2 separate regions of the Homo sapiens genome follow, and region 2 is linked to region 1. Evidence: fine-mapped expression QTL. Tissue or cell type: adrenal gland. Region 1 holds a variant in brackets; the other region holds the start of a gene. All regions are shown on one strand. Distances are between the middles of the regions.

What was found. PIP is the estimated chance that this variant, and not a neighbour inherited with it, causes the effect. A credible set is the group of variants that fine-mapping cannot tell apart.
Region 2: S100A16 starts here. The variant in region 1 is the best candidate, but not a certain one, in a credible set for the expression of S100A16 in adrenal gland (GTEx, PIP 0.63).

What each region holds. Positions count from the first base shown.
Region 1 is chr1:153,585,818-153,590,198 of GRCh38, forward strand. No RefSeq gene overlaps it. Among named protein-coding and RNA genes, the nearest start is that of S100A2, 22 kb to the left of the region's middle. The variant C/A (reference allele first, on the strand shown) is at 1,747.
Region 2 is chr1:153,611,269-153,615,649 of GRCh38, forward strand. It overlaps S100A16 (S100 calcium binding protein A16), which reads right to left and starts at 1,869. Exons shown (of 3, transcript NM_080388.3): 1 at 1,684-1,869. S100A14 (S100 calcium binding protein A14) reads right to left here. Exons shown (of 4, transcript NM_020672.3): 3 at 3,967-4,113; 4 at 2,987-3,754. The coding sequence ends at 3,617.

The DNA.
Region 1 (4,381 bases):
TTTGGGAGGCAGAGGCGGGCAGATCACAAGGTCAAGAGATCAAGACCATTCTAGCCAACATGGTGAAACCCCGTCTCTACTAAAAATGCAAAAATTAGCCGGGTGTGGTGGTGTGAGCCTGTAATCCCAGCTACTCAGGAGGCTGAGGCAGGAGAATTGCTTGAACCCAGGAGGCAGAGGTTGCAATGCACCAAGATCGTGCCACTGCACTCCAGCCTGGGTGACAGAGTGTCAATAAAATAATAATAAAATAAAATAAAGAGCATAATCATTGGGAAAAATAAAAGATGGCTACAACTGGAGAATAAATGGATGAGCTAAATGATCAGACTGAGAAACTCTCCCAGAAGGCAGAAGTAGAGAACAAAGAGAATATTTTTAAAGGAGCTAAGTGCTATGGAGAATAGAAGTAGAGTGCTCATATCAGGATAACAGGATTCCCCAGACAGGGAATTAAAAAAAAAAAAAACAGAGAGGAGGAAATAATGAAGTAATAACATTGAAACACTTCTGAGAATTAGAGAAAAAGATCTCAGATAGAAAGGGCTCATAGAATGCTAAATAGGGTAACTGAGGAAAAAAACACATTTAGACTCATATTGAAGTGGAAGAAGATCAAATTCAATTAAAACTCTGAACATTTCCAAAAGCAATAGATTGCCTACAAAGGAATTGAGAAGTAGGTCCGTTGTGCACTGGTTTCAACCTGTCTGAGTCAAGTTAAACAGACACACACAGACACACTCAAGTTACATGAAGCAGGTTTATTACTTACAGATTGAAAGCAGGGGACAACAGAAGCCTCAGATTCATGGCAGGCTGGTACCCCAAGGCTCAGAAAAGCTGCCCAGGAACTACCAGTCATACTGGATTAGAAAAAGAGGAAAAAAAGAAAAAAGAAAAGCTGCCCAGGGCAGATGGAGTCTCAGTTACATGTGCCCCACTTGCATCTCAGCTGAGGGACTCCAAAAAGCATCCTAAGGCTGGGCATGGTGGCTCACGCCTGTAATCCCAGCACTTTAAGAAACTGAGGCAGGAGGATTGCTTGAGGCCAGCAGTTTGAGACCAGCCTGGGGAATATAATGAGACTCCATCTCTAGAAAATAAAAAACAGGCCAGGCGCGGTGGCTCATGCCTGTAATCCCTGTAATCCAACACTTTGGGAGGCCAAGGCAGGCGGATCACCTGAGGTCAGGAGTTTGAGACCAGCCTGGCCAACATGGTGATACTCCCATCTCTACTAAAAATACAAAAAAATTAGCTCGATGTGGTGGTGGGCACCTGTGATCCCAGCTACTTGGGAGGCTGGGGCACAAGAATCGCTTGAACACGGGAGACAGAGGTTTTAGTGAGCAGAGATCGGGCCACTGCACTCCAGCCTGGGCAACAGAGTGAGACTCCGTCTCAAAAAAAAAAGAAAAGGAAAAAGAAAAAAATCAGCTGGGCATGGTGGCACACACCTGTACCCCCAGCTACTTGGGGGACTGAGGAGAACAGATTTCTTGAGCCCAGGAGTTCAAGGCTGCATGAGCCGTGATTATGCCACTGCACTCCAGCCTGGACCACAGAGCGAGACCCTGTCTCAAAAAACAAAACAAAAAAAGCAGCCTGCCCTGGATTTACACCCCTGGGGCAATGTGACATGCTTGGCTAATGAGTTGAAGGACATCCTGTTTCTAGGGGTTACTGGAACGGGGCCCAGGCTGTTCACCAGTCCCTCTTTATCTCGGGATGTTGTATCTCAGC[C/A]CATTCTACAGTTATTCCTGAGAGCTCCAAGTGATAAAGGGGAGATAACTGGATAAGGCCAAGGCCATGGGGAGAACTGTCCTGCAGGAACACGAATCAAATTGACATCAGACTTCTCAATAGAAACACTGAATACAAGAAAGTGGCAAGGTTTGTAAGTACTGAAAGAAATTTTAGGCTAGGTGCAGTGGCTCACCCAGTTAATCCCAGCACTTTGGGAGGCTGAGGTGGGAGGTTCACCTGAGGTCCAGACCAGCCTAGCCAACACATTGAAACCCCATCTGTACTAAAAATACAAAAATTAGCCGGACGTGGTGACATGCCCCTGTAATCCCTAACTACTCAGGAGGCTGAGGCACAAGAATTTCTTGAGCCTAGGAGCCTAAGGTTGCAGTGAACCAAAATTGCGCCATTGCACTCCAGCCTGGGAGACAGAGCAAGATTCTATCTCAAAAAAAAAAAGAGAGAGAGAGAGAGAGAGAAAGAAAGAAAAAAAAATTCTGTGTAGCCAAATAGTCATTCAAATTTGAAAATATAGTAAAAAATATTCTCGGCCAGGCGTGGTGGCTCATGCCTGTAATCTCAGCACTTTCAGAAGCCGAGGCGGGCAGATCACCTGAGGTCAGGAGTTACAGACTAGCCAGACTAGCCTGGCCAACATGATGAAACCCCATCTCTACTAAAAATACAAAAATTAGTCGGGCATGGTGGCGCGTGCCTGTGGTCCTAGCTACTCAGAAGGCTGAGGCAGGAGAATTGCTTGAACCCGGGGAGGCAGAGGCTGCAGTGAGCTGAGATTGCGCCACTGCACTCCAGCCTGGGTGACAGAGCAAGACTCTGTCTCAAAAACAAAAAAAAAATTATCGCATTACAAAAGCCTCAGAATGTTTGTCACACAAAGACCTACATTTACAGTTCTCAAAGTATCCAAATAAGAAGAGAAATAAGTTCAAGAGGATAGGATGATGCCTGCAATATAGGAAATAAACATGATTAAATGACATAATAAAATTGAATATCAACAAAAGCTAAAAGGGGGAGAGAGTCTGAGAAAGAAGAGGTGGAGGAGAGTGAGAGATAATCAGAATGGAATGATTGGTTGGAGAGTAGAGTCTCTAGTTACTGTGTCATATATTTGCAGCTGGACTCCGTCCCATAGATGAGCTGAAGCAAAAGGACCTTCACACAGAACTTTTATCATCAGCCTGAGGAAAAGTACTCGAAGGACAAGGCCATTGGTTGGGAACTTACACCAAAAAAAAAAAAAGAAAAAAAACCTGAATTATAGATACTATGAATATGATGAAAATAAGCAGAACGGACCGGGTGCAGTGGCTCACACCTGTAATCCCAGCACTTTGGGAGGCCGAGGCAGACAGATCACCCGAGGTCAGGAGTTCGAGACCAGCCTGGCCAACCATGGCCAACATGGTGAAGCCCCGTCTCTACTAAAAATACAAAAATTAGCCAAGCACAGTGGCGCACACCTGTAATCCCAGCTACTCGGGAAGCTGAGGCAGAATTGCTTGAACCCAGGAGGCAGAGGTTGCAATGAGCCAAGATCGTACCACTGCACTTCAGCCTGGGAGACAGTGCAAGACCCCATCTCAAAAAAAAAAAAAGAGGAAGGAAAAGACAAGACTGATGGGATAGGAGGGTGTGAAAGGAACTTTATTATTAGGAAGAATATAAATAATTAAAAATTATTCAATGAAGTAGCATAAAGTCAAATTAAAGCAACTACATTAACAAGAAAATAGAATGTATAGTTTTCAAAACATGAGAAGAATGTTGGCTCTATGTAATGGAAAGTAACAAAGGTGGGGAAAGAAACAACAAAGAAGGCACAGTACATGAAAAATATAAAATTAAATGGCAGAATAAGTCCTAATATTATAGTAATTGTAATAAAGATGGGTAAAGTAAACACACTTCTTAAAAGACAAACGTTCCTGGGTTGAGTTTCTTCCTTAAGGTTCAGCAATATGTTGCATACAAGAGAAACACTGAAAATAAAAAAACTTTATCACGGGCTGGGCGCAGTGGCTTATGCCTATAATCCCACCACTTTGGGAAGCCAAGGCAGGCGGTTCACCTGAGGTCAGGAGTTCGAGACCAGCCTGACCAACATGGAGAAACCTCATCTCTACTAAAAATACAAAAAAATTAGCCAGGCGTGGTAGCACATGCCTATAATCCCAGCCGCTCGGGAGGCTGAGGCAGGAGAATCGCTTGAATCTAGGAGGTGGAGGTTGCAGTGAGCCAAGATCACACCATTGCACTCCAGCCTGGGCAACAAGAGTGAAACTCCATCTGAAAAAAAATAAAAAACCATTTCAAATATTTAAACAAGAAAATAGAAGGAATAAACAAAAGGAAGAAAATACATGAAGCAAATATAAACCAAAAAAAAATCAGGGAAGTAATTTTAATATTTGACAAAAGAGGATACAAGAGGAAAAATATAAAAGACAAAGAATGAGGTAATACAAGAAAATACAAACACCAGGAACATAAAAGCACCTACTCATATAGCCTCAAAATATATAAAACAACAACTGATAAAATTTCTGAGGCTGGGTGTGGTGGCTCATGCCTATAATCCCAGCATTTAGAGAGGCCAGGGTGGGAGGAC
Region 2 (4,381 bases), 25 kb after region 1:
AAATGCCTCCTAACCACCCCTAGCATCCCCAGGCTCCTTCCGTCTGGAGCTCCAAACATCCACCACACCGTCCTAAGTCCACCTTCTCTTCTCACCCCACAGACACCTCTGGAGTCTTAAGTTTTTTCCAAGTGTTGGGATGTGTCCCTAGACTCCTGTCCCTCCTGGTCACTGTTCTCTCCAGAGCCTAGCCCACTGTCAAGCCTAAGTATGGATTCTCTGTGTCCCTTCCATCTACCTGGAATTCATTTGCTCACTTAGGCACCATGAGTTTGCTTACTCATTCATTTATTGGCTCATTCATTCACTCTCATTCATTCACTTGCTCATTCAATAATGCATTCACTCTCTTGCACATTCATTCATTCATTCCCTTTTTCATTTACTCATTTGTCCTCTCTAACTTCAATATATAGGGAAGGTGCCATCCGAACTGGGCTGACAATGCCACCTCTATCAGCAAGGCTGTTTCAAATGAAATTTCTCCAGCCTCAGCTGTTCCATTCTCTGCTCCTTCCTGTGTTCTTTCTCCAATTCCACAAGGCCCTCTCCAGGAACAGCTCCCGGAGCATAGTGGGGCCTGCTTGGCCCTGCCTCACCCCTTACCATCCTCACAGGATTCTGCGTCTAACTCTCTTTGTCTCTCTCTCACACACACACACACACACACACACACACACACACCGAGCAAGGACCTCGGCCATTCCTGATCCCCTCTGCTTGGGTGACCCATCACCCTTCCACTCACTTCAGTTCTTGGAGCAAGAAGCCAGCCTCTGAAATTTTTCCAGGCAAGTGAAGTTGGAGGAGTTCAGTGTGGATCTTGCCCCCGCCTCCCCCAACACACACACAGCTACCCCAGCCTCAACAACACTTACTAGAATGTGGGGAAAGGCAGAGCCAGCTCCCCAGCACCCCTGCCCTCACCACCATCCCCACTGGGCTGGGCAGGGGAAGGCTCCCATAGTGCAGGTGGCTCTGCCAAGAAAAGCAGCTCAAGCCGGGGCCTGCCTGGGTCCTGAGGTGGAGGAGCTGCCGAGGTTCAGCCCCCCTCTCTCTATCTTTCCCTCTCCCAGGGAGCTTGCAGGCTCCCCACAGCCTCACTCGGGTTCCTCCCAGATCTCATCATCCCTCTCAAGGAACAGCTCCTGGAACACAGTGGGGTCTGCTTGGGTCGTGAGGTAGAGGGGACGCCACCTCAGCCCCCGCCTCCTCTTCTCGGAATCTCAGGCTCCCTGGAAACTGCCTGGTTCCTTCTGGACCCCATCACCTCCCCTAGGACACAGCTCCCAGAGCCCAGCAAGGCCTGTGTCCAAGCTCTGACCACCCCCAACCCAGACCAACACGCATTTGTCCTCTCCTTTTGGGGAGGATCGAGTAGCTGTGGTCAAAGCTTCCAAATACTCTGCCCCTGGAGAGGAGCTCCGTCAGCTGCTGCGGCAGGGAGGGGGTCTCACCATCCCATCCATCCCTCTAAAGGCCTCACCCAGCCCCCAACCCCCCAGGACTCCCCATTCCTAAACTGGCCTGTGGGAGAAAGTTAATAATTACCAAAATCTTCCTGCCTGCTCTCTGGCAGGCCCCTCTCCCCAGGCCCCCTTCACTGCCCCTTCTCCTGGCCTCCCAATACTGTGGGGCCCTCCGGCAGCCGAAGACCTCCCAGGCCGGGCCCAGGGTGCTCACCTGCTGCCTCAGTCTGCCTCCTCTCCAGCAGGGCTCTGGGGCCTGGGCTCTGGCACTGCCAAGCAGCTCCCTGCGCTCAGCCCAGCCGGGACTCCTCCCCGCTGCACTCCCAGAATCTGTCCCACTCCCTCCCAGCCCTGCCCGCTGAGCTGGCTCGGTGGGGAGATAGTGGCTGAGCTCCTTCTTGACTTGGCCCTGGGGTTGGGCCCTTGTTAAAGGGATACACACCTTTTTTCACACCCCTCTACCCCCATCCCAGAGGGAGTGGTGAAAACTGGCACTCCCCCAACCCCACCCTCCCAGCCCCGCAGGGGCTGAGCAGAACCTGACAGGGTAGAGAAAGGAAGGGAAGGACTATCACCTGCCTTTCTCACCTGGGTCACTGGGATCCCAGTTTCAGGGGCTCCCAACAGACAAGTTCAGTTAACATTCCAGGCCAGCCTAACTGGCCACAGAAACCTCCTTGCCACTGGGGTTTCAGGAGTAACGCCCGACTTCTGTGCTCAAATCAGAAGGCAGATGCCAGGGACCTGTCTGGCTCCCTGGTCTTCTGTCTCTAGTCTGACCCATCAGCTCTACTGAGACCCAGCCCTAAGATCCCTCATGTACACCAGAAGACTCCTCTGGAAACTCCCCACACCCCACCGTTTCCCTAAGATACCCAAGGAAACTGGCCAGCTCGACCTCCCTACACTAGGGCAGCAGCTGAAACCAAAGAGGGGCCCACTTGCCCACTCCAGCGGGAATGATATTGGGTCACTGGGCACTCACCATGTGTCAGGCTCTCTGTAAGTGCTTTACATGATGTGTGGCATTGTCCTCCTGGCAATCCTGTGGAAGTAATATTCATATCCCCCATTTTACAGATGAGGAAACTGATACTAAGAGCATGCCCAAAATTCCAATGATAAGTGGCAGATCTGAGATTCAAACTCAGGCCAGTCAGCCTGTTTCTAACCGCCCCCCACCCCCACCCACCCCATTTCCCTGGTTGTGCCAGCCAGGGCTCAGAACACCTGGACTAATATCCTTTTCCCCAAGTGTGCACACATACCCTCCTCTCCTATAAGAGGGCCCGCCCATTGGCAAAGAGGAGCCTGTCCCTCAGAGAGGACCATGTTGCCCTTTTGGACCTGGTACCACCCTCAACCCAAACCCATAGGGAAAAGTGAGTCCCCATTCACTTCCACAGCCAACCACTCCAGCCCCACGTGCCCCACCCTACCAATGACTTTGCCTTTCACCCCCAAGCTCCTCTCACCCGTGGACCCTCAGGGAGGGGGTGTCCAGTCAAGACAACATGTTTCACTTTTTTCATTTTTTTTTATTAATCAAATGATACAAAACAACCATCATTCTGTCAATGCCCAAGCACCCAGCTGGTCCTCTCCCCACATGTCACACTCTCCTCAGCCTCTCCCCCAACCCTGCTCTCCCTCCTCCCCTGCCCTAGCCCAGGGACAGAGTCTAGGAGGAGCCTGGGGCAGAGCTGGAGGCAGGAAGAGAGCACTGGACAGACAGCTATGGTTTGGATTGGGGAAGAGATTAGGAAGTAGGTTCTTAAAGACCCTTTTTTAGTACCAGATATCCAGCCATATTCCCAGCTCCATTATTCAAATCATTTCCCATAGCCCAGCTCCTCTCTGTTCTCCCCCTACTACCAATTCTTTGGCTCTTACACAATTTTTATCCCTCAAATATTCATCCCTGGCCCAACCAGTCCCCTGAGCCTCCCTCTGGTGGAGACTCCTCCACCCATGAGCTCCCCAGAGCATCCAAGACAGAGTGCACAGAGACCTGGGGAAGGAAGCTGAACTTTGCAGAGATGAGGACAGGTGCAGGCTAGGGTACAGGGTGGTGGTAGAGGAGACAAGTTTTATCTCCAGGCCCACAGTCTCTCCCCAACACCCCCCAAGAATTCCAGAGGGAGTTCTCAGTGCCCCCGGACAGGCCTCTCCAGCTTCACACTCTTGGCCGCTTCTCCAATCAGCTCCCAGAAACTCCTGAACTCCAGTTTAGAGTCATTGCAGCTGCCCAGGTTGGCAATTTTCTCTTCCAGGCCACAGTTGCTCTGAGGGGAGTGAAGAAACCATGGCTCAGGGATGCAGCACCTTCCAATCTTCCCACCCCACCCTGCCCACGGGCAGACAGCAGGAGCAGAGGCTACCTAGCACTGGCAAGGGGGAAGAGCTGGGGGTTGCAAGTGCCAGTGTGGGTGGGGTCCCGGAGCACTTGCTTGGGAAGTCAGGGTACTGGCTGAGGTGGGGTGTGCTCCGTCCATACCGGCATGAGATGGGGCAGCTGCTGGGTGACCAGGTCCCGTAGCTCAGAAGGGGTCAGCGTCTCCTTCCCACCCTCCACGGAGTACTGGTGAAAGTTCTTGATGAGGGTCTCAATGGCCCTCTCCACATCACTGAATTCCTGAGCATCCTGAGGGCAGGGGACATCACAAACATCAGTGAAGCTCCATGCACCCCAAAACCCTGCTTCTCCAGGAGCCTAGCAAAGCCCCCAGGGCAGAAGGCAGCTGGAAGGCACACAGCTCCCACCCACTCCAGAGCCCAGAATCTAGCCCCTCTCCCCCACCCCCTGCTCGGCCTCCAGGCCACAGCAGCTACAGGTTGGGGAAGGCTTCCCTCCCCACACCCCCCACCGCAGGCAGAGCAGGTCCCAGCATGCACCCAGGCATCCTCTTCCC